Linked DNA regions of Homo sapiens. The protein of the gene in region 1 interacts with the protein of each later gene in a pairwise test. Each region holds a gene or a part of one and is shown in the gene's direction. Other genes may lie near its edges.

What was found.
Region 2: the proteins of ZNF488 (region 1) and MAGED1 interact in binary tests that used the Homo sapiens proteins (3 or more experiments, as listed by UniProt).
Region 3: the proteins of ZNF488 (region 1) and RIMBP3 interact in binary tests that used the Homo sapiens proteins (3 or more experiments, as listed by UniProt).
Region 4: the proteins of ZNF488 (region 1) and COL26A1 interact in binary tests that used the Homo sapiens proteins (3 or more experiments, as listed by UniProt).

Annotation. Positions count from the first base shown.
Region 1 is NC_000010.11:47,380,281-47,389,353, reverse strand, and holds the start of ZNF488 (zinc finger protein 488), read left to right. Parts: upstream 1-5,060; 5' UTR 5,061-5,134; intron 5,135-5,517; exon of another isoform or gene 5,518-5,620; intron 5,621-7,003; exon of another isoform or gene 7,004-7,049; intron 7,050-8,492; exon of another isoform or gene 8,493-9,073. UniProt on the Homo sapiens protein: Transcriptional repressor. Plays a role in oligodendrocyte differentiation, together with OLIG2. Mediates Notch signaling-activated formation of oligodendrocyte precursors.
Region 2 is NC_000023.11:51,895,636-51,903,220, forward strand, and holds the end of MAGED1 (melanoma-associated antigen D1), read left to right. Parts: coding exon 1-125; intron 126-773; coding exon 774-1,442; intron 1,443-1,572; coding exon 1,573-1,636; intron 1,637-1,911; coding exon 1,912-1,991; intron 1,992-2,159; coding exon 2,160-2,251; intron 2,252-2,478; coding exon 2,479-2,558; intron 2,559-2,649; coding exon 2,650-2,692; intron 2,693-2,945; coding exon 2,946-3,008; intron 3,009-4,546; coding exon 4,547-4,661; intron 4,662-5,917; coding exon 5,918-6,295; 3' UTR 6,296-6,303; intron 6,304-6,510; 3' UTR 6,511-6,719; downstream 6,720-7,585. UniProt on the Homo sapiens protein: Involved in the apoptotic response after nerve growth factor (NGF) binding in neuronal cells. Inhibits cell cycle progression, and facilitates NGFR-mediated apoptosis. May act as a regulator of the function of DLX family members.
Region 3 is NC_000022.11:18,604,403-18,609,360, reverse strand, and holds the end of RIMBP3 (RIMS-binding protein 3A), read left to right. Parts: coding exon 1-2,846; 3' UTR 2,847-3,546; downstream 3,547-4,958. UniProt on the Homo sapiens protein: Probable component of the manchette, a microtubule-based structure which plays a key role in sperm head morphogenesis during late stages of sperm development.
Region 4 is NC_000007.14:101,540,147-101,548,499, forward strand, and holds part of COL26A1 (collagen alpha-1(XXVI) chain isoform 1 precursor), read left to right. Parts: intron 1-3,851; coding exon 3,852-3,950; intron 3,951-5,191; coding exon 5,192-5,344; intron 5,345-7,009; coding exon 7,010-7,093; intron 7,094-8,353.

The DNA of each region.
Region 1 (9,073 bases):
TGATCGTGATGGGTGCAAAACTGTGAATGTACTTAATGTCAAGGAATTGTACACTTAAAACTAGTTAAAATGGTCAATTTAATGTTGTATATATTTTATCACAATTAATAACTTAAAAAACCTAATAGCATGGATTGTGGATCAGGTAGACACAAGTTATAAGATCCAAGTTTGAATCTGCTGAATGTCTAGGGCATGCTACTTAACCTCTCTGAGCCAGTTTCCTCCTCTCCCCAGGGCTAAACATCGTCTCCACCCCTACTTCATGGCTGGTGGTAAAGATAAGCGGGAAATGTGGGCTGGTACAGGGGACCCCACAGCACAGGCCTCCAGTGCACGGTCACTAGGTCAGCCTGAAATCAGAGGCCAGGCTGAAGGAAGTGAGCAAGGAAGCCAGTAGGTGAGGAAGGCGTGGAGACTGAGGACTTGTCAGCCTGGAGCAGGAAACATTCCTGGGGAACACAACAGTATTAAGCAGGAAAACAAAATGAAACAAAAAGGAAATTTCCCGCATTAATAAGAGGACAATGAAGCCTATTTATTCTATGATGAAGGCCCATTTTATTACACTCACAGGTTCTGAGGATCAGGCACTCAGGGCAGAGTGGGGAGGGCTCCACATGTCTGGAGACCCTGATGGGAAGGCTTGAGCAGCCGGACATGACTTGAAGGATTGGATACTGGGATTTCTGGAGGATCCTCCATTCATAAGTGTGGGTTCTGGCAGGAGGACTCAAAAGCTGGGCTCAGCTGGAACTGTGAATGGAGACTCTGCATGTGGCCTCCCTGTATGACCTGGGCTTCCTCTCAGCATGGTGGCTTAAAGGTGCTTGGGCTTTAACAGGTGGCTTAGAGTTCCAAGAGTAAGTATTTTCAGTGAGCAAGTCAGAAATTGTAGAGCCTTTTATGGCATCACCTTGGGAATCACACAGTGTCACTTCCACTGTACTCTATTAATCCAAGCAGTCAATGGGATACCAAGAGTCAGTGGGAGGGAACACAGGCCCCAGCTCTAGGGCAGGAGTGTGAATGAGTTCACATCCCAGTGTCAAAACTGCTGTATGACCAGGGCTTTGAATGGCAGAGAGGGTATAGTGTGTGGAAAAACATGGGCACAACCAAGTGGGATTCAAGCGTGATTCAGAAGTCAGAGTGTTACTGTAAAACATTTGTAGAAATACCTTAATCAATTTTATTTTCTCCATTTTTGTATGCACAAGAGTGGCATATAATTTTAGAAAATTTCTACCAAGTGTATATGTTCTGGCTATGTGTTCCTACCCAAATCTCATCTTGAATTATAATTCAAATTGTAACCCCCATGTGTTGGGGCAAGGACCTCATTGGAGGTGGTTGAATCATGGGGGTGATATGCTGTTCTCATGATAGTGAGTGAATTCTCATGAGATCTGATGGTTTTGTGAGGGGCTTTCCCCCCTTCGTTCTGCATTTCTCTCATTCTTCTCCTTCCTGCCATCATGTGAAGAAGGACGTGTTTGCCTCCCCTTTTGCCATGACTGTACGTTTCCTGAGGCCTCCCCAGCCATGCTGAACTGTGAGTCAATTAAATCTCTCTTTCCTTTATAAATTGCCCAGTCTTGAGCAGTTCTTTACAGCGGCATGAGAATGGACTAATGCAATAAATTGTTATCAGGTAGTGGGGTGCTGCTGTAAAGATATCAAAAAATGTGGAAGTGACTTTGGAACTGGGTAACAGGCAGAGGTTGGAACAGTTTGGAGGGCTAACAAGCAGACAGGCAGGATGATGTGGGAAGGTTTGGAACTTCCTAGAGACTTGTTGAATGGCTTTGACCAAAATGCTGATAGTGATATGTACAATGAAGTCCAGGCTGAGGTGGTCTCAGATGGAGATAAGTAACTTGTTGGGAACTAGGATAAAGGTGCTTCTTGCTATGTTTTAACAAAGAGGCTGATGGCATTTTGCCCCTGCCCTGGAAGTCTGTGGAACTTTGAACTTGAGAGAGATGATTTAGGGTATCTGGTGGAAGAAATTTCTAAGCAACAAAGGGTTCAAGAGGAAGCAGAGCATAAAAGTTTAGAAAATTTGCAGCCTGAAGATGTGATAGAAATGCAAAACCCATTTTCTGGGGGAAATTCAAGCCTGCTGCAGAAATTTGCATAAATAATGAAGAGATGAATGTTAATCATCATGACAATGGGGAAAATGTCTCCAGGTCATCTCAGAGACCTACAGCAGCTCCTCCCATCACAGGCCCAGAGACCTAGGAGGTAAAAATGGTTTCGTGGGCCAGGCTCATTGGCCCTCATCTCCTCTATGCAGCCTTGGAACATAGTGCCCTGCGTCTCAGTTGCTTCAGCTCCTGCCGTGGCTAAAAGGGGCCAAGGTACAACTTGGGCCATTGTTTCAGAGGGTTCAAGCCCCAAGCCTTGGAAGCTTGCACATGGTGTTGGGCCTGTGGGTGCACAGAAGTCAAGAATTGAGGTTTGGGGCCAGGTGTGGTGGCTCACGCCAGTAATCCCAGCACTTTGGGAGGCCAAGGCCAGCGGATCTCCTGAGGCCAGGAATTCAAGACCAGCCTGGCCAACATGGTGAAACTCTGTCTGTACTAAAAATACAAAAATTAGCCTGGCATGGTGGCAGGTGCCTGTAATCCCAGCTACCTGGGAGGCTGAAGTGGAGAATCACTTAAACCCAGGAGGTGGAGGTCACAGTGAGCCGAGATCATGCCACTGCACTCCAGCCTGGGCAACAGAGTGGGACTCCATGTCAGGAAAGAAAAAAAAAAAAAGAATTGAGGTTGGGAAATCTCTGCCTAGATTTCCGAGGATGTGTGGAAACACCTAGATGACCAGGCAGAAGTTGCTGCAAGGGCAGGCCCCTGATGGAGAACCTCTGTTAGGGCAGTGCAGAAGGGAAATGTGGGGCTGGAGCTCCCACACAGAGTCCCCACTTGGGCACTGCCTAGTGGAGCTGTGAGAAGAGGACAACTGCCCTTCAAATCCAAGAATGGTAGATCCACCGACAACTTGCACCTTGTGCCTGGAAAAGCCACAGGCACTCAAAGGCAGCCCAAGAAAGCAGCTGGGAGGGGGTCTGTACCCTGTAAAGTCACAGGGCCAGAGCTGCCCAAGGCCGTGGGAGTCCACATCTTGCACCAGCATGACCTGGGTGTGAGACATGGAGTCAAAGGAGGTCATTTTGGAACTTTAAGGTTTAATGACTGCCCTATTGGGTTTCAAACTTGCATGGGGCCTGTAGTCCCTTTGTTTTGGTCAATTTCTCCCATTTGGAATGGGTGTATTTACACAATGCCTGTACTTGCATTATATCTAGGAAATAACTTTCTTTTGATTTTACAGGTTCATGGGTGGAAAGGACTTGCCTTGTCTCAGATGAGACTTTGAACTTGGACTTTTGGGTTAATGATGGAATTAGTTAAGACGTTGGCAGACTGTTCGAAAGGCATGATTGTGTTTTGAAATATGAGGACATGAGATTTGAGAAGGACCAGGGGTGGAATAATATGGCCTGCCTCTGTTTCCCCACCCAAATCTCATCTTGAATTATAGTCCTTATTGTAATGCCCATATGTAGGGGGAGGGACTTACTGGGAGGTGATTGAATCATGGCGGTGGTTGCCCTGTGCTGTTCTCATGATAGTGAGTGAGTTCTCAGGCAATCTAATGGGTTTGTGAGGGGCTTTTACCCCCTTCACTCTGCACTTCTCTCATTCTTCTCCTTCCAGCCACCCTGTGAAGAAGGACCTGTTTTGCTTCCACTTCCACCATGATTGTAAGTTTCCCGAGGCCTCTGCATCCATGCTGAACTGTGAGTCAATTAAACCTCTTTCCTTTATAAATTACCCAGTCTCAGGCAATTCTTTATAGCAGTGTGAGAATGGATTAATACAGTCTAAAATAGATCTTTCTTTATATAACTTAAAAATTACAAGTGATGAAAAGCATTTGAGTTGGTTGGTTGTCAGTTTTTTCCCCCTCTTTTGGAGCTGTATTTAGTATAATAGAATATCTTAAATTAGTGGTCTTTTATAATAAATGAAATTGGGTGTACTTCGCCCCAGCATATTAGGGTTCCCTTGCTTCATGCCTTCCATGACAGTTGGTATTATTATATTTTAACATTTATGCCTAATGATTAAACATCTCCTTGTGGTCTTAATTTGCATTTTCTAATTACTCTAGAGACTTCGTCCTTTCACATGATTTTGGTCGTTAGTGGTTCCTCTTTGAAGTGCCTATTCATGTCTGTGTCCATTCGTTGCTTTGGGTGTTCCTCTCTTTCACACTAATTCATTAAAAGTATATATCCTGGATACTAATCCTTTATCAATTGCTGCAAGTATCTTCTTTCAGTGTGTGGCTTGCTTTTTCACTCCGTTTGTTGTTTTTTAATCAAAGTATAAGTTCTTAATTTTAACGCACTTTAACTGTCATTTTCCACCATGGCCCGAGTCGCGGAGTCCGCCTTCCTGGCAGAGCGTTGCGTGGTCACAGCTGAGGTCTGGGGAGCAGAGGCGGCGGGCGCTCCCGGGGGGAGCTGGGCGATTCCGGCGGGGGGAGGTGCCGATCGAGCGGCCGCCAGGCTGCTGGGGGAAGGAGGGCCAGGAGGCCGTGGGGGTCCTCGGCGCAGACTGGAGCCGCAGGCACCGCGCGCAGCCCTCGCCCGCATCGCCGAGGCCCCGCGGGCCCAGGAGCGAGAGGTCGGGCGCCCAGGACCAGAGGGCGTAGGCGAGAGCAGGCACCGCCTCCAAAGAACGCCCTCGCCCTCCCGCAGGCGATGGCGCCCGGCCCTGACCAAGCCAGCTGGGGGCATCTCCGCGGAGCTGAGCCGGGGAAGGGCCGGGCAGCCCAGAGGGTCAGAAGGGGGTTTTCTCCCGGGGTTGTGAGTTCTTTGGCCAGCGGCACCCTCCCCTGCCGGGGCCGCCCACCCGCAAGCCCCGCCCCGAAGGCTGGAGCTTCCCTGGGGGTGGGCGACGCCGAGACCACGCCCCGAAGGCGGGAGCGGCTTGGGGGCGGGATCTGGCCGCCCTCAGGGCTCCGGCGCCAAGTTCAGAGCCACGCGCAGTGCTCTTGGCCGGGAGGAGGCTGTGCTGCACCAGCACCTCTTGCTCCACATCTCCAGAGAGCCCAGGTGAGGCGCACCCTCCTGTCTGCAGGGACAGAGCCGCGAGCGGGCGCGGGCGGCGGGGTCCATCTCACTTCCACATCAGCCTTTCCCCAGGACAGGGTTGTTGAGTCCTGCCTTTGACTGTGGGGTCCTTTCCTTCCCAATGTCGCCAGCTTCCTCTCTCTCCCACGTCGTCTCCGAGTCCCATCCCCGTTTCTGTTCCCTTTCTCTTCTCTCACTTTTTCTCCTCTATCTCTTCTTTATTGTCTTCCTGTTTTCATTTTCTTCTGTGTCAGTCTCTCTCCCTCTCTCTTTTCCTCTCTTTGTTTATTCTTCTCCCCTACCTTCTCCCTCTCCCCCCTGTTTTTTCAGCACTCAAGAATTCTGCCTATGAATTTTTCTCCTAGGGTGACTTTCAGGCTGCAGTTGTTTTCCTCCCTCCCACTGTCTCTCCCGGGGTTTATCCTGTGTTGCTGTTATTCTCAGCCCGGGCTTGCGCTGGGCAGTAGGGTAAGAACCATGCATCAGCCCCAGATCCTTTCTCCAACAGATTATATCCAAAGATCTGGACATGTATCCTGTTCACTGCCTTTCCTGGGAAACAAAACAATACCAAATGATCACATTATAATGAGTTTTTAGAATGAGCTAAAAGAACATACCTGGTTTTAGAGACAAGGGGTTGATTGAATCCTTTCCTTGACATTTTGCCTTTACTAATAGACACAGACAGCACAGCAGGAAGCTAAGCCTTGCAGAAGCATTTAGGGGGCGTTCCCACCCACACCTGCCTTCTGGGCAGGCTATGCAATGCCAGGTGCAGGGGAGGGAGGGGACAGGATTCAGAGCAGGGTTGTAGGAAGACAGTGGGAGGCCAGGGCTTTGAAACATTTGAGGGAGCCTGGAAATAAGAAATTAACAGTAAATTTCTAAAATATGTAGTTGCCAATGCCACTGATGTACAGAAATGAAATTAATTACTCCTGAGGGAGACATTAGACATTTTATGGCAGTAATTATGGCATTTGAAAGTAATGATTTTATGTACATTAGATAGGAGGGCCAAGGGGAAAATATTTCCTGTTAGTATCAAAGATTGTCGTAGATGCATAAGGGACGAACTCTAGAAAATCAAGTCTCATTCTTTTTGAGGGATAAAATAGAACTATATCGAGGCAATTTTTTGTTTCTTGGTTACAATGTAATCTTATCAGAGATATGTGATTTAGTTTTTAATGATATTTTATGACACATACATATTTATATGTTCAAACACACACAAATACATAATATATATGCACTAAGTTATAAAAGAGCCCTTGTTTGTTTGTAAAGATCTTAATTACCAATAAAGGTTGAAGCTTTCACTTCTTGGAAATAAGTTAACATGATATTGTAGTTTATTATGACCTTTAATGAAAATTCAACTAATTTACTTTTGATTGATACAGAAATGGAAATTTGGCCGTAGATAAATCACACAGAATTAAACAGAAATTAAGTATGATGAAGGTGCATTGCAGTGTGTTCAGTGAAAGAATTTGCATATGCTAGATATTTTGGACAAATTCATAGGTATGTGCATGGAACTGTGATTTGTGAGGCTTTTTTCTGGTTTAAAAAGTTAAATTGCCTTTATATCTAATCCCTGATCCCCAACATATGCGGATTCTGGGGGGAGGGATAAAAGACTTTGCAAATGATTTAGAATCATCGTGTCTGCTTTGCTTGGCAGATTTCTTTTCAGACATCCAAGAGGTGGCAACTTTTGTTTGAAACATATAATCACACCAATTATTTAAAAAAAAAGACAAACTTAAATATTTTTAAACTTATTTTTCCTCATTAGTGGTCTGTGCCTCTATAAGAACATCATTGTCTTTTTATCCTTAGATGATGCTATTGTTGGAACCTGGGAAGGTCGGAAGGAATAGCTGAGGTAAAATCATGGACTTTTTGCCTGAAGGCTGCCAGTGGAATTGGGACCACTGTCTCAGGCTCCACCTTTATTCTCTAGTTGTATCAGGAAAAGAGCTGCTGTTCCTTGTGCTCTTGCTATCTGGCATGCACAGAGCCCTGTTGAGTCCTGTCCGTGAGTGCCTGAAGTGAAGATCACCATTCTTGTTTTACTTATGAAGAGATGGAGGCCCAGAGTGTTTGTCTGAGCTCAGGCAGGTAGTGGCAGGGTTGATTTGGAACACAAGTAGTGCCCTGGCGCCTGAGTGACCAGGGCTAATTCAGTCCCTTTATGTGACTTCCATGTTGCTGCAGCCCTGGCAAATATAACGTCTAAAATATCACTCCACACAGCACCAGCCACTGCCTATTGGCATTGTTTGGCAGAACACTGCTCCCTGTTCTATGTCCTGGCCATCCTCAGTCATATTCATGGCAGACTCTCAATCTGCACAGCAGGGCCCCATTGAAGCATTGGATCTGCCCTCTGCTTTCACTGGCCCTGCTTCTGCACAGTCTCAGACATCTGAGTGGATGATGAGATCACATCCACCCCTATGAGGGTCGACGTGGCCAAGTTATGTTGCACTAGGGCCACTCTCCCTGCTTCCATGGGTACTGGCTGTGTTCGCAGTCTCCTGCACTTGGCTTTCCTCGAATGCAGCAGGCATTGCTGCTAGAGGGGTCCAGGCGTAGCTGGCCACAGAGCCTGTAGGGGCTGACCAGGAATTGCTCATCTCCCCAGTGCCACCAGCCAGCCTCTGGGAAAGCCTGGATCACCTTCAGTGTTTAATTTCCTCAGTGTGCCAGAGCCAGGAGGATTCCTGGAAACAGGTGTATTCCCTTTCTTAGGAAACCCCAGGACCTCACAATCCAAATGCAGAAAAGGCCCGTAGATGATTGTCCTCTGGAATCTTCCAAAAGGGTCTGGGAAGCTTCTGCAGAGACTAGGGATACCAAAGGATTAGAAGACAGGAGGTATTTTCTGCTCTTGTGTGTTTTAACTGAAGAGAAAAGCAGATGCAGCAAAGCACTGCTTGGGGGGAGCGGGTGGGGGTACATGGTGTCTCTGAATAAGATCTGGTGCCTGACCTGCAGCTCAGAACAGCTTGAGGCTGGCCAGTTGGCTTGGGTTAGGGAGTGACTTCAGACATCCCAGGAAAAAGAGGTTATCCAGATGTTTGCCAAGAGTTCTTTCTTCTGTAGGTGGAGCAGGAAGGAGAAAAATGCCCAGGCTGTTTGGTCATTTATTAAACACTGTTATGCACTGGTCCCTGAGAGCTCAGGAGTAATGGGAAGGCTGCCATGGAGTGGACTCTGTCCCTTTGCACTCAGTGCGATAAGAAGTGATACCCCTAATGTTTACTGAGCCAGGTTCCTTAGCACTTTCTCTATATTAATCCTTCTAATCTTTCCCACAACCCAGTGAAGAAAACACCAAGGTGACCCTCTTTATAGATCAGAAAACAGGCCTGGAGGGGACCCACGCCTTGCCCAAGGTCACAGGTTGGATACAGCAGAGCTGGCCTCCAACCGTGGAGCCCGTGCACTTAACATCTATTTGGATGGAAGGCTCGAAGGTTACCTGAGACAACCTGGTCAAGGTGATAATGTGGGAGAATGTGGCCAGTGGTTCCCAGATGAGTGAATGATCAGTGTGCAGTCACCAGAGGATGGGTGATAAACCGAGAACCACAAGCTCTTAACACTGTGGGGTGGGCGAGGCTTCATCTCCCAGGATGCAGCACTTGCTGAGTTGGGCAACAGGGGACCCTGGTTGATGGCCCAGGTTGGTTGGAAGCCTTTGGGAGATGTGCTCTGTGTTGGTGGGGAAGGCCAGGCATGGTTAGATCCCCTGTAGACTTGGGGAGCTCAGTTTCAGAAAGTTTCAAAGATCATCACTTGATTTCTGTGATTCACGTGATCTGAGGGCTCTGAAAGTGGTGGGTGAGTCCTGGAATTAAATCTGTTTTTTTCAAGTAGGAAAGACATGGGGTGGCAATGAGA
Region 2 (7,585 bases), on another chromosome or scaffold:
CTGACATAGAGACCGACCCAGGTATCTCTGAACCTGACGGTGCAACTGCACAGACATCAGCAGATGGTTCCCAGGCTCAGAATCTGGAGTCCCGGACAATAATTCGGGGCAAGAGGACCCGCAAGGTGAGATCTCTGCTAACTTCATTTTGCTTTGGGGCTGTCTCCTTTCTTCTCTGAGGGTGTTCATTTGTTCTAAACAAAACAATGTATGTAACTGTATTCAGCTAGGCTATAGGGCATTTGAAGAGAATGTTTATTCCTGTCCTCCGGATGTTCACAAACTGATGGGGAGATAATACATGGACACAAATAATATATACAACCTGTATGTAATTCAGTTTACATTTTGTTATGTTAGTAACCACCATGTGTTAAGCCTTGAGCTAGGCACATTCACACAGGTTGTCTCATTAAACCTTAAAGGCACCTCCTACCAGGTAGGGATCATAGTGCCAATTTTACAAAGAAGGAAATTAAGTGCCAGAGAGGTGAAGTGACTTGAGTGATTTGTTCAGGGTGGTACAGGCAGAACCAGTGGTGGACATAGGAAGAGGAGAAGCCTCAGGCCCCATCTTTGGGTTGCTCCTGGCCTGGCTCGGAGATGAAACTCCTGCCTGGAAGACAGTGAAAGACAAACCCAGGACTCAGGGTGACCAATGGCTAGTGGGTCAGGCTGTCACTACAGGTGAGGGTTTAGAGGGCATTCCTGGAATAGATAAGGTGAGGACACAGAACCCACTGGTGATTCTGAACTTCTCTCTGATGATGCAGATTAATAACTTGAATGTTGAAGAGAACAGCAGTGGGGATCAGAGGCGGGCCCCACTGGCTGCAGGGACCTGGAGGTCTGCACCAGTTCCAGTGACCACTCAGAACCCACCTGGCGCACCCCCCAATGTGCTCTGGCAGACGCCATTGGCTTGGCAGAACCCCTCAGGCTGGCAAAACCAGACAGCCAGGCAGACCCCACCAGCACGTCAGAGCCCTCCAGCTAGGCAGACCCCACCAGCCTGGCAGAACCCAGTCGCTTGGCAGAACCCAGTGATTTGGCCAAACCCAGTAATCTGGCAGAACCCAGTGATCTGGCCAAACCCCATTGTCTGGCCCGGCCCTGTTGTCTGGCCGAATCCACTGGCCTGGCAGAATCCACCTGGATGGCAGACTCCACCTGGATGGCAGACCCCACCGGGCTGGCAGGGTCCTCCAGACTGGCAAGGTCCTCCTGACTGGCCGCTACCACCCGACTGGCCACTGCCACCTGATTGGCCACTTCCCACTGACTGGCCACTACCACCTGACTGGATCCCCGCTGATTGGCCAATTCCACCTGACTGGCAGAACCTGCGCCCCTCGCCTAACCTGCGCCCTTCTCCCAACTCGCGTGCCTCACAGAACCCAGGTGCTGCACAGCCCCGAGATGTGGCCCTTCTTCAGGAAAGAGTAAGAGCTGTAACTCCCCAGTCACTTTTCCCCTCTCTTGCTCTTTTCTTTGTCATCCTCTCATCTGTAATTCAACCAAGTTTTTTTGTAAATATTTTATAAGTTTAATGATTTCCTTTTTCCCTCCCAGGCAAATAAGTTGGTCAAGTACTTGATGCTTAAGGACTACACAAAGGTGCCCATCAAGCGCTCAGGTATGCATCCAGTGTCCCCTCCCCAAGCTCTGCCCTTCCCTTCACTCCATGCTCTGTCAGCATTCTTCTGCTTGTAGCTCTGCCCTTCCCTTCACTCCATGCTCTGTCGGCATTCTTCTGCTTGTATGACCCTTCCCCTTCTATCCCCTCCTTTCCATGGTTGGCTCTTTCCACCCTTGAGGACCTTGACTGTGCTACCCCCAGCAGGGCTGGCAAAGGGACTGCTGCTCTGTGGCCCCCGCTCGGCTCAGATGGCTCCCTCCTCTCTCCTACAGAAATGCTGAGAGATATCATCCGTGAATACACTGATGTTTATCCAGAAATCATTGAACGTGCATGCTTTGTCCTAGAGAAGGTGAGAAGGCAGCCCTGGGGTACAGGAATAATGGGGAAAGTCTTGATTTCAAAGATTCATGGGGTTCCTACTGGGAGTTTAGGGCAAGTCTCAGGGAGATGAGTGTCTGCCTATGGGTAGCTTATGCTAGATGTTGTAATTTCATAGTCTGTTTTCTTGCCCCTGTAGAAATTTGGGATTCAACTGAAAGAAATTGACAAAGAAGAACACCTGTATATTCTCATCAGTACCCCCGAGTCCCTGGCTGGCATACTGGGAACGTAAGATGGGAAAGAAGGTGGAACATGGCCTTTCTCAGTGGTGCTTTTTTTCTAGGAGTTTCACGTAGATCAGGGTCCAGGGTTCAGGGTCACATAGCAGGTCATGGGCAGAGCTGGGGTATAATTCTCCCCTAGCTGAGGAATATTGGGGAGGCTAGATGGGCAAGCTGGTTGGGGTCTCTCATGCAAATGGCTACTGAAAATATATTCTTTCTATATTCCCTTAGGACCAAAGACACACCCAAGCTCGGTCTCCTCTTGGTGATTCTGGGTGTCATCTTCATGAATGGCAACCGTGCCAGTGAGGGTGAGTGGCTGGACCTGCAGCTGGGGGTTGGCCACAGCCTGATTTCCATGCTTATTTTCCGTCCCTTGTCTCCCCTTGCCTCCCATTGCAGCTGTCCTCTGGGAGGCACTACGCAAGATGGGACTGCGTCCTGGGTATGATTGGGCTCTCTCATCTCTTGCCTGTTTGTGCCATCCTTTGGCAACAGTGGATGGTCCCAGGATTGCATTAACCTGGGGGTCTGGAGGGTTTGGTTTGGGGATGTTCAGAGCCCAAAGATGTGACCTGGGTGGATGGGGAAACAGTTCTGAACTCTCTGCCTCTTTTCTCATCTCTGACCTCTGTTCTGGAAAGCTCTTTGGGCATGGTAATAGCCTCTGATTGTGGGTTTCCTTTTTTTACCTTCAGGGTGAGACATCCCCTCCTTGGAGATCTAAGGAAACTTCTCACCTATGAGTTTGTAAAGCAGAAGTAAGTGATGCCTAAGGGGCTTTTCCTGCTTCTTATGATTCTGCCTGTGTGCTGGTCAGCTTTAGAAAGCCCTTCCTGGCTGGATACAATGGCTCATGCCTGTAATCCCAGTACTTTGGGAGGCTCAGGTGGGCAGATCGCTTGAGCCCAGGAGTTCAAGACCAGCCTGGGCAACATAACGAAACCCCATCTCTACAAAAAAATACAAAAATTAGCCAGGCGTGGTGACATGCACCTGTAGTCCCAGCTACTTGGGAGGCTGAGGTAGGGGAGAATCATCTGAGCCCAGGAAGTTGAGGCTGCAGTGAGCTGTGATCATGCCACTGCACTCCAACCTGGGCAACAGAGTGAGACCCTGTCTCAAAAAAAATAAAAGAAAGCCCTTCTCAAGCTCGTTTCTTACACTATACTTGTGCATATGTGTTTCTGTGCATACAGAAACACTTATGTCCTCAGGAGTATTTATTGCATATACTCCTCATGGTTAAATTCTTTATTTTTTATTTTTTTATTTTTTGAGACGGAGTTTCGCTCTTGTTGCCCAGGCTGGAGTGCAATGGCGTGATCTCGGCTCACCGCAACCTCTGCCTCCTGGGTTCAAGCTATTCTCCTGCCTCAGCCTCTTGAGTAGCTGGGATTACAGGCATGTGCCACCACGCCCACCTAATTTTGTCTTCTTAGTAGAGACGGTGTTTCTCCATGTTAGGCTGGTCTCAAACTCCCGACTTCAGGTGATCTGCCTGCCTTGGCCTCCAGAAGTGCTGAGATTACAGGCGTGAGCGACCGTACCGGGCGAATTCTTTTGTTTGTTTTTTTCGAGACTGAGTCTCACTCTGTTGCCCATGCTGGAGTGCAGTGGTGCAATCTTGGCTCGCTTGAACTTCCACCTCCCAGGTTCAAGCAATTCTTGTGCCTCAGCCTCCCGAGTAACTGGAACTTCAGGTGCGTGCCACCGTGCCCGGCTGTTTTTGTATTTTTAGTAGAGATGGGGCTTCACCACGTTGGCCAGGCTGGTCTCAAACTCCTGACCTGAAGCAATCCACCCACCTCTGCCTCCCAAAGTGCTGGGATTACAGGTGTGAGCCACCACACCCGGCCAGAATTTTTCTAATTTTTCTACTTTTCTAAGCAGTTGTCTTGCAAGTGAAGCCCATCCACCATCCCCACAGTAGACATTCCCAAGGCTGGGCCAGGCTGACACTTTTGCACTGCATTGTACTCATTTCAATGGACCTCTGTGGCTCACTGACAAGATTACAAGAATCTGGAGCTAGAGCTGAGGCAGAAGGAGTGAAAGGAAATGTTGTCCTTTCTGTGACCCTATACAAGCCTCGCCTGCATCTCTAGTGAGTGCTTAGCGTTCTAGTGCAGGAATTTAAGGCTTGATGATTAAGGGGTAAATACCCTGATGGTGTTCAGGAATGAGCCCAAGGGGGAGTTGCTATCTGAAATCTGTTAAAAAATGTAAGATTATTTTTCATTAGTGGACTACCATTCTGCCTGGGTAGGTAGACACAAAGACTGTTTTGCTCTTTCAGATACCTGGACTACAGACGAGTGCCCAACAGCAACCCCCCGGAGTATGAGTTCCTCTGGGGCCTCCGTTCCTACCATGAGACTAGCAAGATGAAAGTGCTGAGATTCATTGCAGAGGTAATGGAGGAACTGTTCCAGCATTGATAGGTCAAGGGATGAAGTATAGCTGGCTGGGAAAGGCCCAGGGTAGGAATGAGATCCTAGGTGTGGCAGGTGGTAGGTGCCGCATTGCTGGTGGTATTTGTTGTTGCTGTTAGGTAAACTTAACATGTATTAGGTGCTAACATATGTTAATATATTAGCTAATACAATTATGAGTTTGTTTTGGGTTTTTTTTTAGGTTTTTAAAGTATTTTTATTTTTTCCCAACTTTACTAAATTATAATTGACAAAAATTGTATATATTTGTGGTGTACAATGTAATTTTTAAGTATTTTGTTTTATTTATTTATTTATTTGTTTTCTCCCGAGATGGAGTTTTGCTGTGTTGCCCAGGCTAGAGTGCAGTGGCGCAATCTTGGCTCACTGCAACCTCTGCCTCCCAGGTTAAAGCGATTCTTGTGCCTCAGCCTCCCAAGTATCTGGGATTACAGGCACGTGCCACCACCATGCCTGGCTAAATTTTTATTTTTCTATTAGAGACAGGGTTTTGCCATGTTAGCCAGGCTGGTCTCAAACTCCTGACCTCAAGTGATCTGCCTGCCTCAGCCTCCCAAAGTGTTGGGATTACAGGCGTGAGCCACCGTACCCGGCCCATTCATTTATTTTTAACTGACTAATAAAAAATATACATATTTATGGGGTACAGTATGATGTTTTGATAATACATGTACATTGCAGAATGATTACATCAAGCTAGTTAACTCTCCATAGCCTCATATACTTGACATTTTTTTTGTGATGAGAACATTTAAAATGTACTCTTTTAGCAATTTTAAATAAACGACACATTATTATTAACTATAGTCGTCATGCTATACGGTTGATCTCCAGAACATATTCTTCCTATCTAAATGAAACTTTGTACCTTTTAACCGATATCTCCCTATCCCTCCTGACCCCAGGCCCTGGAAACTACCATTCTACTCTCTGCTTCTATGAGTTAGACGTTTTTAGATTCCATGTATAAGTGAGGTCATGCAGTATTTGTCTTTCTGTGTCTGGCTTATTTCACTTAGCATAATGTCATCCAGCATCATCTATGTTGTTGCAAATGGCAGAATTTCCTTCTTTTTAAAGGCTGAATAGTATTCCATTGTGTGTGTGTGTATCACATTGTCCTTATCCATTCATCCACTGATGGACAGGTAGGTTGATTCCATATCTTGGCTATTGTAAATGGATTTTGTTTTGTTTTCTATTCCTCATCTCAGGTTCAGAAAAGAGACCCTCGTGACTGGACTGCACAGTTCATGGAGGCTGCAGATGAGGCCTTGGATGCTCTGGATGCTGCTGCAGCTGAGGCCGAAGCCCGGGCTGAAGCAAGAACCCGCATGGGAATTGGAGATGAGGCTGTGTCTGGGCCCTGGAGCTGGGATGACATTGAGTTTGAGCTGCTGACCTGGGATGAGGAAGGAGATTTTGGAGATCCCTGGTCCAGAATTCCATTTACCTTCTGGGCCAGATACCACCAGAATGCCCGCTCCAGATTCCCTCAGACCTTTGCCGGTCCCATTATTGGTCCTGGTGGTACAGCCAGTGCCAACTTCGCTGCCAACTTTGGTGCCATTGGTTTCTTCTGGGTTGAGTGAGATGTTGGGTAGGTACATCACTTTGGATTGGGCAGTTAGGGTCTCTGGGGGATATAGGGTCCATGGGGTTGTATTTATGTGCATGAGCTAGAAGTATTAGGAAACTCATTGTAGGGAGATGAGGAAAGTATGGGGCAGCACTCTTTGGTATGTATATTCCTTATTATTTGATATATATCATTGATTTTTTTACTTCTTCTTTCTTATGTTCACAGATATTGCTATCAATCGCAGTAGTCTTTCCCCTGTGTGAGGCTGAAGCCTCAGATTCCTTCTAAACACAGCTATCTAGAGAGCCACATCCTGTTGACTGAAAGTGGCATGCAAGATAAATTTATTTGCTGTTCCTTGTCTACTGCTTTTTTTCCCCTTGTGTGCTGTCAAGTTTTGGTATCAGAAATAAACATTGAAATTGCAAAGTGAATTAGATGTGCTCTCTGCTTCTTTTTTTCCCTATATTTGGGGAGCGAGCAACATGTTTATGTGGGAGAGACAGGACCTCAGCTGTAGTTTGAAGGGTAGATCAGCTTTCAGCAGGTGGAAATGTGGGAAGATCTAGCTACTGGATTGGGATACAAAGGCAGGATCAATGAACACGAGACCCAAGAACTAGTATAGTTTATTCAATAAATATCACTTAAGTGACTCTCATGTGATAGATATGCTGCTAGGTGTCTTGGAGTGACATTGCGAGAAGTCGCATAGTGAGAGAGGGTATTGGTGCTCAGACAGTTGCACTTAAGAACACAGAGGAGGTGGAGCTCCAGGTGATGATAAGGTCCAGAGAGTAGGTAGTTGAAGGGGACAGAAGGTGACTATTCTGGAGATAAGGGGTCCATGGCCTGTGATTCTAGGGTGTTGGTTATACAACCCATGTGGAAAGTGAAAGAACTCCAGGAGGGCAGCAGGAGTAGGAGTAGAGAACACTATGAGTTAGATGCCAGAGTCTCCTCTGTGAGAAGGAAGATATACCCCTAGCCACATTGCTCATAAAGGGATGGGCTCACAGGCACTCCTCCCCATCTCTGGAAATGCTGCCCAGGATCCTGTCCCTCTAGGAGGCCCTCACAATCTTCCCACTTGCACAGGACCGGGGCTGCCTCCTCGAGACAGGATCTTATGGGCAGTGAAGGAGGCCTCACAATGGCCTCTTCTCTCCTGCAGGGAGAAAGAGAAGACTTTGTTACCTCAAGAACAAGAATTACAAAGTAAGACAAAGCTCCATGCACAGGCTTTGACTGTGACTGTGAGCAGGAACTTGGCTTGAGCTGCTGAGTTCTATGCTGGAAG
Region 3 (4,958 bases), on another chromosome or scaffold:
TACAGGCGCTCCAGTGTCGGCCTGGTCACCCTCCTGAACAGCCCTGGGAGACCAGTCAAATGCCGGAGTCCCAAGTTAAAGGTAGCAGAAGGCCCAAGTTCCACGCACGGCCTGAAGACTACGCAGTGTCACAGCCCAACAGAGACATACAGGAGAAAAGGGAAGCCTCCCTCGAGGAGAGCCCAGTTGCCCTTGGGGAGTCAGCCAGTGTCCCCCAAGTTTCAGAGACAGTCCCTGCCAGCCAACCTCTGTCCAAGAAAACCAGCTCCCAGTCAAACTCCTCCTCTGAGGGGTCGATGTGGGCCACCGTGCCGTCCTCCCCTACTCTGGACAGGGACACAGCCAGTGAGGTGGATGACCTGGAGCCTGACAGCGTGTCCCTGGCCCTGGAAATGGGGGGCTCGGCGGCTCCTGCTGCCCCCAAGCTCAAGATCTTCATGGCTCAGTATAACTACAACCCATTTGAGGGGCCCAATGATCACCCTGAGGGTGAGCTGCCCCTCACAGCTGGGGACTACATATATATCTTCGGGGACATGGATGAGGATGGCTTCTATGAGGGGGAGCTTGAGGATGGCCGGCGGGGGCTGGTGCCCTCCAACTTCGTGGAGCAGATTCCGGACAGCTACATCCCAGGCTGCCTGCCTGCCAAATCCCCTGATCTTGGCCCCAGTCAACTCCCAGCGGGGCAGGATGAAGCTCTGGAGGAAGACAGCTTATTATCTGGGAAAGCCCAGGGAGTGGTGGACAGAGGGCTGTGCCAGATGGTCAGGGTGGGCTCCAAGACAGAAGTAGCAACAGAGATCCTGGATACCAAGACGGAAGCCTGCCAGCTGGGCTTGCTGCAGAGCATGGGGAAGCAGGGCCTCTCCAGACCCCTTCTGGGGACCAAAGGGGTGCTCCGTATGGCTCCCATGCAGCTACACCTGCAGAATGTCACAGCCACATCAGCCAACATCACCTGGGTCTACAGCAGCCACCGCCACCCCCATGTGGTATATCTTGATGACCGAGAGCATGCCCTGACCCCAGCGGGCGTGAGCTGCTACACCTTCCAGGGCCTGTGCCCCGGCACGCACTACCGGGCGCGGGTGGAGGTGCGGCTGCCACGGGACTTGCTGCAGGTGTATTGGGGAACTATGTCCTCCACCGTCACCTTCGACACACTCTTGGCAGGACCTCCCTACCCACCGCTGGATGTGCTGGTGGAGCGCCATGCCTCGCCAGGTGTCCTGGTGGTCAGCTGGCTCCCTGTGACCATTGACTCAGCTGGGTCCTCCAATGGAGTCCAGGTCACCGGTTATGCTGTGTATGCAGATGGGCTTAAGGTTTGTGAGGTCGCCGATGCCACTGCTGGGAGCACCCTATTGGAATTCTCCCAGCTACAGGTGCCCCTCACGTGGCAGAAGGTCTCAGTGAGAACCATGTCACTCTGTGGTGAGTCCCTGGATTCAGTGCCTGCTCAGATCCCCGAGGACTTCTTCATGTGTCACCGATGGCCAGAGACTCCACCCTTTAGCTACACTTGTGGCGACCCATCCACCTACAGAGTCACCTTCCCCGTCTGCCCCCAGAAGCTGTCACTGGCTCCTCCGAGTGCCAAGGCCAGCCCCCACAACCCTGGAAGCTGCGGGGAGCCCCAGGCCAAGTTCCTAGAAGCATTCTTTGAAGAACCCCCAAGGAGGCAATCCCCAGTGTCCAACCTGGGCTCAGAAGGAGAATGTCCGAGTTCAGGGGCTGGCAGCCAAGCCCAGGAGCTTGCAGAGGCCTGGGAGGGCTGTAGAAAGGACCTGCTCTTTCAGAAGAGTCCCCAGAACCACAGGCCACCTTCAGTCAGTGACCAGCCTGGGGAGAAGGAAAATTGCTCCCAGCACATGGGCACCAGCAAAAGCCCTGCTCCAGGATTCATCCATCTACGCACCGAGTGTGGGCCCAGGAAAGAACCGTGTCAGGAAAAGGCTGCCCTTGAGAGGGTACTTCGGCAAAAGCAAGATGCCCAAGGGTTCACACCTCCCCAGCTGGGCGCCAGCCAACAGTATGCATCTGACTTCCATAACGTTTTGAAGGAGGAGCAGGAGGCACTGTGCTTGGATCTGTGGGGCACAGAGAGGCGAGAGGAGAGGAGGGAGCCTGAGCCCCACAGCAGGCAAGGACAAGCTCTGGGGGTGAAGAGAGGGTGCCAGCTCCATGAGCCCAGCTCGGCACTGTGTCCAGCTCCATCCGCCAAAGTCATCAAGATGCCCAGGGGTGGCCCCCAACAGCTGGGGACGGGGGCCAACACTCCAGCCAGGGTCTTTGTGGCCCTCTCTGATTACAACCCCCTGGTGATGTCTGCCAACCTCAAGGCTGCAGAGGAGGAGCTGGTCTTCCAGAAAAGGCAGTTGCTAAGAGTGTGGGGCTCTCAGGACACCCATGATTTCTACCTCAGCGAGTGCAACAGGCAAGTGGGCAATATCCCCGGGCGCCTAGTGGCTGAGATGGAGGTGGGGACAGAGCAGACTGATAGGAGGTGGCGTTCTCCGGCCCAAGGGAACCTGCCTTCTGTGGCCCACCTCGAGGACTTTCAGGGGCTCACCATCCCCCAGGGTTCCTCCCTGGTGCTCCAGGGGAACTCCAAGAGACTCCCACTGTGGACTCCAAAGATCATGATAGCAGCTCTGGACTATGATCCTGGGGATGGGCAAATGGGGGGCCAGGGGAAGGGCAGGCTGGCGCTGAGGGCAGGAGACGTGGTCATGGTTTACGGGCCCATGGATGACCAAGGATTCTATTATGGAGAGTTGGGCGGCCACAGGGGCCTGGTTCCTGCCCACCTGCTGGATCACATGTCCCTCCATGGACACTGAGCAAGCATCCTTGCCCAGGTAGTGGCCTCTGGCTGCTCACACCCTGCCAGAGGAGAAGCAAGCGTTCAGACCCTCACACCAGCACCCCTCCTCACCACCATAAGTAGCATGTGCTCCAAGTGCCACTGTGTTAAACTGATGGTAGTCCTTAAGCGTCCCCTAGGCTCTGAAAGTAGCAGGACTTAAGCCTGAGTTATTTGCAAAAGCAAACACAACAAGCCAACCCCTGAGAGTCTGAGAAGCCATTTCAAAGTTGCTGATAACTATGGCAGGTATACGGAGAAGCGCCTTTTTCTGTGGCCAATGTGTGTTTTCTCTGGGAGGTTAAGGTTATCTGTCCATTGCCTTGTACGAAAGTCTCAAGAAAAGTCTACATCTTAAAAAAGAAAAAGCAATCTGAGTGTTATTTTTGGGATGTGAGGGTGATCTGGCTGCGACATGTGTCACCCCATTGATCATCAGGGTTGATTCGGCTGATCTGGCTGACTAGGCGGGTATCCCCTTCCTCCCTCACCACTCCATGTGCGTCCCTCCAGAAGCTGTGTGCTCAATGGAAGAGGATGACCATCCCCGATAGAGGACGATCGGTCTTCAGTCAAGAGTATAAGAGTAGCTGCGCTCCCCTGCTAGAACCTCCAAACGAGCTCTCAGAATGTTATTTTTCTGTCTTATGTCCAACCCCTCATTAAAATGTTCATAGAAAAAACATATTTTAGAAGTTGAAGCACAACCAAGGAAACATGAGCCTGGCTTTCCTCCCTCTCACTTCTGCGCATTGGGTCCGCAAGGGCTACAGAAATGTTTTCCTGGCTGAGGAAGGGAGGGTGCACCCTTCTGCTTTTTTTTTCCTGGCTGCAGTCTATTCCCAGAACACATTCCATCACATGGTTCCCAGAACTCAGATTGTGCGGTGGCCACGTCATCATTGGCTGGGGCTCACAGTCACAGCAGCAGAGGCCTCCCTAAACCTCCCTCTCCTCTAGCCCCACCCGCTGTCCCCTGCTCCTCATGCCCCCATGCTGTGTCCCCTGGCCTCACTTCCGTTGCCATGTTTTCATAATCCTCTCAGGCTCTGGGCAGCAGCGCTGCCCACAGTAGGACCAGATCATGTAAGGAAAATACTGCAGGCTCATCTTGGGGCTGCACTGGCGACCTGAGAACACCTTATCCTACTGTACCTGCTGCACCTCATCTGACACCAGCTTCTCTGCTTTGCCCAAGGTCCCTAGGCCCTGAATGCTTACTTTTTAAGGTCAGCCTGGCTCAGGATATGCTAGTTTGGCTGCAGAGGGTCCTACTAAGAGCCAGGACTGAGGAGCAAGGCCCAAAAAACTCCTCTGGGCCACATCTTCCCCGAGGGCATCCCCGCAGGGAGGCCGTGTGCTGCTGAGCCCTTTGCTAGGAGTGGGTAGTCAGTGTCTCCCACATGACGATCTTGCTTCATTCAGATAGCTTTCGTAGCTCACTGCTTTTCTGAGTCACTTCCTGTGAGGGATCACCTTGGGATGGAATTTCTTTTCCTTTTTTTTTTTTATTTGGAGACAGAGTCTCGCACTGTCACCCAGGCTGGAGTGCAATGGCACAATCTCGGCTCACCACAACCTCTGTCTCCCGGGTTCACACAATTATCCTGCCTTAGCCTCCCGAGTAGCTGGGATTACAGGTGCACACCACTACACCTGGCTAATTTTTTGTATTTTTAGTAGAGACAGTGTTTCACTATGTTGGCCAGACTAGTCTCAAACTCCTGACCTCGTGATCTGCCCGCCTCAGCCTCCCAAAGTGCTGGGATTACAGGCGTGAGCCACTGCGTCCGGCCTTCTTTTCCACTTTTTTTTTTTTTTTTTTTTGAGATGGAGTCTTGCTCTGTTGCCCAGGCTGGAGTGCAGTGGTGCAATCTCAGTTCACTGCAAGCTCTGCCTCCCGGGTTCACGCCATTCTCCTGCCTCAGCCTCCTGAGTAGCTGGGACTACAGGCGCCCGCCACCACGCCTGGCTAATTTTTTGTATTTTTACTAGAGACGGGGTTTCACTGTGTTAGCTAGGATGGTCTCAATCTCCTGACCTCATGATCCGCCCACCTCAGCCTCCCAAAGTGCTGGGATTACAAGCA
Region 4 (8,353 bases), on another chromosome or scaffold:
CTAGTTCCAACATGCCATGTGGCATTTTGAAAAATTAAGCTAACAGTTGAAAATGGGTATTTCACCTAAAAGCCAGGATTTCTAGTTTCTCTTAAGAAGTAGACGATCTGGTCAGGTGCAGTGGCTCATGCCTGTAATCCCAACACTTTGGGAGGCCGAGAAGGGTGGATCATTTGAGGTCAGGAGTTCGAGACCAGCCTGGCCAACATGGTGAAACCCTGTCTCTACTAAAAATACAAAAATTAGCCAGGCGTGGAGGCAGGTGCCTGTAATCCCAGCTACTCAGGAGGCTGAGGCAGGAGAATCGCTTGAACCCGGAAGGCGGAGGTTGCAGTGAGCCGAGATCACGCCACTGCACTCCAGCCTGGGGGACAAGAGCAAAATTCCGTCTAAAAAAAAAAAAAAAAAAGTAGACCATCTGGCCGAGCATAGTGGCTCACTCATGCTTGTAATCCTAGCACTTTGGAAGGTCAAGGCAGGTGGATCATTTGAGGTCAGGAGTTCGAGACCAACCTGGGCAACATGGTAAAACCCCCATTTCTACTGAAAATACAAAAATTAGCCCAGCATGATTAATCCCAGCTACTCCTAAGGCTGAGGCATGAGAATTGCTTGAGCTGGGGAGGTGGAGGCTGTAGTGAGCCAAGATCATGCCACTGCAATCCAGCCTGGAAGACGGGGTGAAACCCTGTCTCAAAAAAATAGATGATCTTGGGCAGGTGCAGTGGCTCACACCTATAATCCCAGCACTTTGGAAGGCTGAGGTGGGAGGATTGCATGAAGCCAGGAGCTCAAGACCAGCCTGGGCAACATAGTGAGACCCTGTCTCTACAAAAAATTATAAAAATAAAAATGAGAAAATTGGCCATCAGGGCTGGCAGTCCCTCATGGAAACAACCAGCTACTGGGTTGCCACTGTAGGTCCAGTCCAGGCTGTGCAGTTTGCCGCAGTCCCCACCATTCCCTATTGTCTTACAGCTCAGCTACTGTCTTCAGTATCTGCCCTGCTCCTTGGCTTCTGCACTTATGGCCCCCAGCCCAGCCTTGCTGGGTTCAATTTTGCAGCATTCTGCCTGGCCAGGGAGCAGGAACTTACTGCTTCCCACCTCTTTCTGGGGTTTGCTCTCTGAACTCTCTGGCTGGAATTGGAGGACATCTGCCCCCCTGCCTTCCTGCCACACTTTTACAATTTTATTTTATTTTATTATTTTATTTTGAGACAATGTATTGCTCTGTCACTGAGGCTGGAGCACAGTAGTATGATCATAGTTCACTGCAGCCTTCATCTCCGAGGCTCAGGTGATCCTCCTGCCTCAGCCTCCCAAGTAGTTGGGACTACGAGTGCACACCACCACACTTGGCTTTTTTTTTTTTTTTTAATTTTTAGTAGAGACGAGGTCTCACTGCGTTGCCAGGCTGGTCTCAAACTCCTGGCCTTAAGCAATCCTCATGCCTCGGCTTCCCAAAGTGCTGGGATTTACAGGTGTGAGCCACCATGCTTGGCCCTGGCCACATTTTAAAGTTAAGGGGAAGAATTTTCCCTCTGCAGATTCTACCTACTGGTCTGGGCTCTGCCACCTGGGGCTGTAATTACCTTTGCTTTAATCACAATTGTAATAATCATAGTTGCAATCGATGAAGCCCTCCTGGTTGCCAGACACTGAGGTGGGGCTTTATCCTGGAGGACATTTAGCAAACAACACCTGTCTATAAGGCTGAATCCAGGGGTTGAAGGCTGAGGTCTACCATGAGTGGTCAGGATCTGCACTGTGCCAGTTATTAAATATTTTCATATCAGATATGAAAATATTTCAAATACAGATATAATTTTTTTTTTTGACATGGAGTCTCACTCTATCACTCAGGCTGGAGTGCAGTGTCGTGATCTCGGCTCACTGCAACCTCTGCCTCCTGGGCTCAAGGGATTCCCCTGCCTCAGCCTCCCTAATAACTGGGATTACAGGCACGCACCACCAAGCCCCGCTACTTTTTGCATTTTTAATACAGAAGGGGTTTTGTCATGTTGGCCAGGCTGGTCTTGAACTCCTGACCTCAAATGATCTGCCCTCCTTGGCCTCCCAAAGTGCTGGGATTACAGGTGTGAGCCAGCACACGCAGCCTAATTTTTGTATTTTTAGTAGAGACGGGGTTTCACCATGTCGGCCAGGCTGGCCTCAAACTCCTGACCTCAAGTGATCCACCCGCCTCGGCCTCCAAAGTGTGGAATTACAGGTGTGAGCTAGCGCACCCAGCCTACAGATATCACTCTTAATCTTCACACAAAGCTTGGAAGCCTTGAGGTTACAGGGGAGACACCTGAGGCTCAGAGAAGTTAAGTGACACCCCTGGGGTCACCCAGCAAGCCAGCAAGCTGGGGGCATTTTGCCTCCATGATTCTCTGCCCTTAGAGCCCTTTGGAGGGGGCGCTCTCCCTCTGCCCTCTGTTCTGAGTGTCTATTCTGATGCTGGGTTGGGGAGCAGGGGCAGAGCAGGGAGGAGAGATGCATGACACAGGTGGCCTCCAGTGGCCAGTCCCAGGGCCGGGGAAGGAGAGTAGGGTATCCTGCATTCTTGGAAAGGGACTGAAGGCTGCGGGAGGAGGGCCGAGCTCAGGTCTCCTACGGGAAGGGGGACCTCTCTCACTCTGGCCCCCGGCCTACCCCTCGAGCCGCTGTCCCTAAGGTCTCACCCCCAGAGCGTTACCTCATGCCCACATTCTTCAGATCTTTCTTGGGGGATGGAGGAGGAGGGGCTTCCCATCCCACCGGGGACCCAGGCCCACGAAAGCGCATGCCTGGCAAGACCTTTCCAACCAGGGGAAAATGCAGTTTCAAGAATGGCCACCAGGTGGGGCACACACTCTACACATGGTGACACCTGCAGCCAACCTGGATTCCAGAGCGCAGGTGGGGCTCTTCCGAGGCCAGCAGCCCCCAGCCAGGCCCTCCCCACCATACCACAGTCCCATGCAGGCAGAGTGCAAAGGGCCCTAAGACTCAGTGCAGGTCCCTTCATCAGATCAGCAAACTTTTTTTTTTTTTCTGAGACGGTCTCGCTCTGTAAGCCAAGCTGGAATGCAGTGGTGTGATTATAGCTCACTGCAGCCCAGACCTCCTGGGCTCAAGCCATCCTCCCACCTCAACGTCCCCAGTAGCTGGGGCCACAGGCGTGCACCACTATGCCCGGTTAACTTTTGTATCTTTTGTAGAGATGGGGTCTCACTATGTGGCCCAGGCTGGTCTCAAACTCCTGGGCTCAAGTGATCTTCCTGCCTCAGCCTCCTAAGGTGCTGAGCAAACATTTTTCAGCATCCTCTCTGGGCCAGAGGGAGAAAAGGCTGTCCCCTGGCCACACAGCAAGCCTTACCTCTCCATCTCCTTGTCCACCCTTGGGGTTTAGAGATCTGTAGCTGGGAAGATCCATCCTTCAGGACCTCCTGGGGCCTCCTCGGAGGCCACCTGTTGGGGAGCACTTTGCCACAAGCCCGGTTCTTGACCCTAAGCAGAGAGACAGCAGGGTGTGAGAGAGGGACCTGGAGCTAAGCAACTTCATCTGCAGCCTGGCTGTGTGAGCTTGGGCAAGGGACCAACCTTCCTGAGCCTCAGTTTCCCCACATTGAAAATGGGAACGAAAGCAGTTCTTAGAATCATAGATGTTTGTAAGTGCAAAGCTGGTTTGTAAGTTGTAATAACCAGCTCCAAGGTGATGTGAGTGCCTTTGCCTGTTTAGGGAGTCCCAGGTAGGCAGGGCTCCTGGGGGAACGTAGGCTGACAGCCCAGGGGGCCAGGCCTGGAGCCACTGGAGGCTGGGGGTCCACCATGTTCTGATGCCCTGTCTCCTTCTCTCCCCAGGGCCCCCGGGGCAGACAGGACCACCAGGGCCTGCAGGCCCCCCCGGGTCTAAAGGTGACCGAGGCCAGACAGGAGAGAAGGGTCCAGCGGGGCCGCCTGGTAAGAAAACCCCCCACATATGTGATGTTGTCAACCTGCGGAAGGGGCTGGGCTTTCTTCTCTACTGGAACAGGCGAGGTGTCCCACGCACCCACAGCCCTGATCTTGCTGGGTACCAGAAAAACGGGGTCTTTTTTTTTTAATTTTTTGAGAGGGAGTCTCGCTCTGTTGTCCAGGCTGGAGTGCAGTGATGCCATCTCGGCTCATTGCCACCTCTGCCTCCCGGGTTCAAGCAATTCTCCTGCCTCAGCCTCCTGAGTAGCTGGGATTACAGGCATGCGCCACCACACCTGGCTAATTTTGTATTTTCAATAGAGACAGGATTTCACCATGTTGGTCAGGCTGGTCTCGAACTCCTGACCTCAGATGATCCACCCACCTTGGCCTCCCAAAGTGCTGGGATTACAGGCGTGAGCCACCACCTCACCTGGCTTTTTTTTTTTTTTTTTTTTGAGATGGAGTCTTGTGCTGTGTCGCCCAGACTGGAGCACGGTGGCACAATCTCAGCTCACTGACACCTCCACCTCCCAGGTTCAAGCAACTGTCCTGCCTCAGCCTACTGAGTAACTAGGATTACAGGTGCCTGCCACCATGCCTGGCTAATTTTTGTATTTTTAGTAGAGACAGGGTTTCACCATGTTGGCCAGGCTGGTCTTGAACTCCTGACCTCAGGTGACCTGCCTGCCTTGGCCTCCCAAAGTGCTGGGATTACAGGGGTGAGCCACAACACCTGGCCAAAACAGGGTCTTCAGGGGCTTCGGGTACAGGCATGAGCATCGAGGCTGTCAGGGGCCAGGAGCAGTTCTCAGCCATTTAAACACCTCCAGAGACCACCCTCTCAACTCCTCCTGGGTCCTGCCGGGGAAGGACCCCTGGTTCAGCAGGTACAGGGCCAGCCCAGGATGGTGGCTTATACTTGGTGTTCCTGCCACAGGGCTGAAGTCCCTGGGAGGGACCAATGGGCCTCTGGCCAGAGCCTTTGCTGATTTCACCGTCCCTGCCCCCCTCACCCTCCCAAGCTGCCACTAAGTGTCCCCTCTGGACTGGGCTGGGAAGGGAAGCCCATTTCATTTACACCCCAGGACACCCCCAAGGAAGACTGTGGATCGGAGGTCACCACTGACTGCCTGTGGGCCCCTGACCAACCCTGTTTCTTTCAAGGCCTCAGTTTCCCCATTTGTAAGTTGCAGCCACCCGCCAGGCTCCGGCTGCCACAGTGACTGTTCTTTTCCTCATTGCAGGGCTCCTGGGGCCTCCAGGGCCCCGTGGGCTTCCTGGAGAGATGGGGCGCCCCGGCCCCCCAGGACCACCCGGCCCAGCAGGCAACCCAGGCCCCTCACCAAACAGCCCCCAGGGCGCCCTCTACTCCCTGCAGCCGCCTACAGACAAAGACAGTGAGTAATGCCCCTGGGGGGCCAAGGGAGGGCTGAGCTACGCTGTGTTCTGGGAGGGATCAGCCTTCCTTAAAGGATCCTGGGAAGTGGACCCCACCACATGCCCATCCTGCTGCACCCAACTGGCTCACTCCTGCAGGCCTCCTCCAGGAAGCCCTCCATGCAGTGTCCAGGGCCTGCCAGTGACGATGACAGGGAACAGCTTGGGAGCAAGGCTTGGTCCTGGGGCTAAGCATCCTCAAGTGGACCCAGGGCTAGCCCCAAGCCCTGCTTTTGGCCCCAAAGTGGCCTGTCTCTGCCTCAGTGCTCAGCTCCCTGCCTTTGGGGTTGTGAGCCCCAAAGTTCACTCTGCTGGCTGACTTGGCCCAGATTCCCTACCTGGCTACCCCACCCCACCAAGGTTATCCCTTATTGTACTTGTTCCTCACCCGCCCTCACTGCAGGTCATTCAGCAGGTGTTTAGTGAGCACCTACTATGTGCAAGGCACAGGATTTTAGCCACTGGGGACACAGCAATGTGCAAAACAAACTCCGGCCCTCGGGGGCACCGGCCAGTCCAAGAGAGCCTCTGAACACACAGAAATGTCCACTTCTACCTTGGGAGGTGGGGACAAGGAGGTGCAGAGAGTGGACGGGACCAGGACTCTGGGCCTAAGGGACCATGAGGTAGTGGGAGGCCAGGCAGAGGAGTCCGTGAGCCCTGAGAGGAGCATCATTTCTGGTTAAGTGTCCCGGCAACTGGGGAAGATTTTTACTTTAATTTTTTTTGACATAGGGTCTGTTGCCCAGGCTGGAATGCAGTGGCGCCATCATAGCTCCCTGCAGCCTCTCACTCCTGGGCTCAAGGGATCCTCCCACCTCAGCCTCCTGAGTAGCTAGGACCCTAGGCATGTATCGCCACATCTAACTAATTTTTTTTTTTTTTTTTGAGTGGAGATGGGGTCTCACAATGTTGCCCAGGCTGGTCTGGAGATGTGGTCTCACTATGTTGGGCAGGCTGGTCTTGAACTCCTGGCCTCAAGTGATCCTCCCTCCTCAGCCTCCCAAAGTGCTGGGAGTACAGGTGTGAGCCACTGTGCCCAGCCTGGGGAAGGGTTTTATGAGGAAGGTGATGGCATTGCCCTGGGGCCCTGGGTCTGGTTCAGGATTGGCCAGGGTGAATCAGGTGAGGGGCTCATCCTGGAGGGCCATGGGAGATGGGTTGTTAAACAGACTCCACCCCTGCTCCAGGCAGTGTGGTCGCCATGATGTAATCAGACTCCCCAGGCACAGCTCAGAGGGGTGGGCATGGAGGGCTTCCTGGAGGAGTGAGCCAGTTGGGTGCAGCAGGATGGGCCTGTGGGATGGAGCCTGGAAGAAGATGCCAGCCTGGGGCATTGGAGAAGTGAGCAGGGCAGACCCAGAGTCTGAAGAGCCTGGAATGTTCTAGAAGGTATTTATGTTTTATATGAAGCTGACCGACCTGGCTTTCCCTGCTCTTTGTCTGGGCCTCTCCGTGCTCCTCTGAGCAGTGGGGGCAACAGTATCTGCAGCGGGCCCCAGGGTGATGGGAGGAGCCCCCCTGGGCTTCGTGTGGCCTGGCTCAGGGCTCAGTGCCCCGGACCAGCCTCCCAGCACTGCCAGGTCTGCCCCACCAGACCCCTGGCCGCTCCGCTCTTCCCACAGATGGAGACTCAAGGCTGGCCTCTGCCATCGTGGACACAGTGCTGGCAGGTGTCCCAGGACCCCGGGGTCCCCCTGGTCCACCAGGTAAGTGAATGGTGGGCTGGCCTGCATTGAGGACTCCATCCCCCCAGGGCTGGCCTGAGCCATGGGGCCTTGAGGGGAGCTGGAGGTCGGCTGGCGGTCCATGGCTTCTGGGCAATGCTGGGGACTGGGTCTGTCCCACCCGCTGTGTGGCAGGAAATGAAGCCCCTCGTTTCCTAGTGGCAGTGCCCCTGGGGGACTGGATGCATGAAACCCACGTGATTCTGCTGGAATAAGATGCCTGCATGAGGCTGCCCTTGCATGGGCCAGAGTGGGACACACACCAGTGGGGGATGGGGTCAGGACAGAGGTGGCAGGAAGTCCCTACCTTTGAGGCAGAAACCAAGGGGTTCAAAGGGGCTGGGACCTGGCTGTCAGTCCTGGCCTGACCTTCCATCATCCACATTCCTCATTGGGGGAAGAATGCAGGGCTGACTGCCTTGTCCCTTTCTGCCCGGGAAGGGAGTCATTCATTCATTCATTCATTTGTTTATTCACTGATTCATTCATTCTTTTATTCATTCATTTATTCATTCATTCGTTCATTCATTCATTCATTTGTCCATTCATTCATTCGTTCATTCATTCATTCGTTTATTCATTCATTCATTCATTTCTCTGTGCGTCTCACAAACATTCATTGAACATCTGCCACTACATGTGCCAGACAGTGATCTAGGTTCCCGGAACTCCTGAATAATCAAAACAAACATCATCGAGAAACTCTCATTCTGGTGGAGGACAGGAATATCATCATAAATTGTGACTTCGACAGGATCTGAGGGAGCTACAAGGGAGAAGCTGGGGCGTGGCGGGGAGGCGCCGTCAAAACGTGACATTTCAGAAGATGCTCTAGGGAGGAGAGGGAGTAAGCTCAGAGGGTACCTGGGGGCCTTCAGGTGACATGCCAGGTCTCTGGAGAACTGGACAGACTCCTGACATTTGTCCCCTGGAGTGCCTGTCCTCACATGCCCTCTCCAAACCTGGGAGCCAGGCCATGCTGGACAGCCCAACATGCGGCTCCCTGCACCACAGGGAGGGATCATGAGAGACCCTCCCTGGGCCCGTGTGGGGTCATGAGAGACCAAGACCTTACTCTTCCTAGCAGGCTGGAGATTAGTCATGAATCTCCCTCCCTGAGCTGGGCACACACATGAGACCCAGCCCGGCCCTCTGGGTACTCCACATCCCATGGGGCAGACAGACGTGTAAACCTCAGTGGCCATGGGCGGTGGCTGGTTTACATAAGGGATTTGCCTGGAG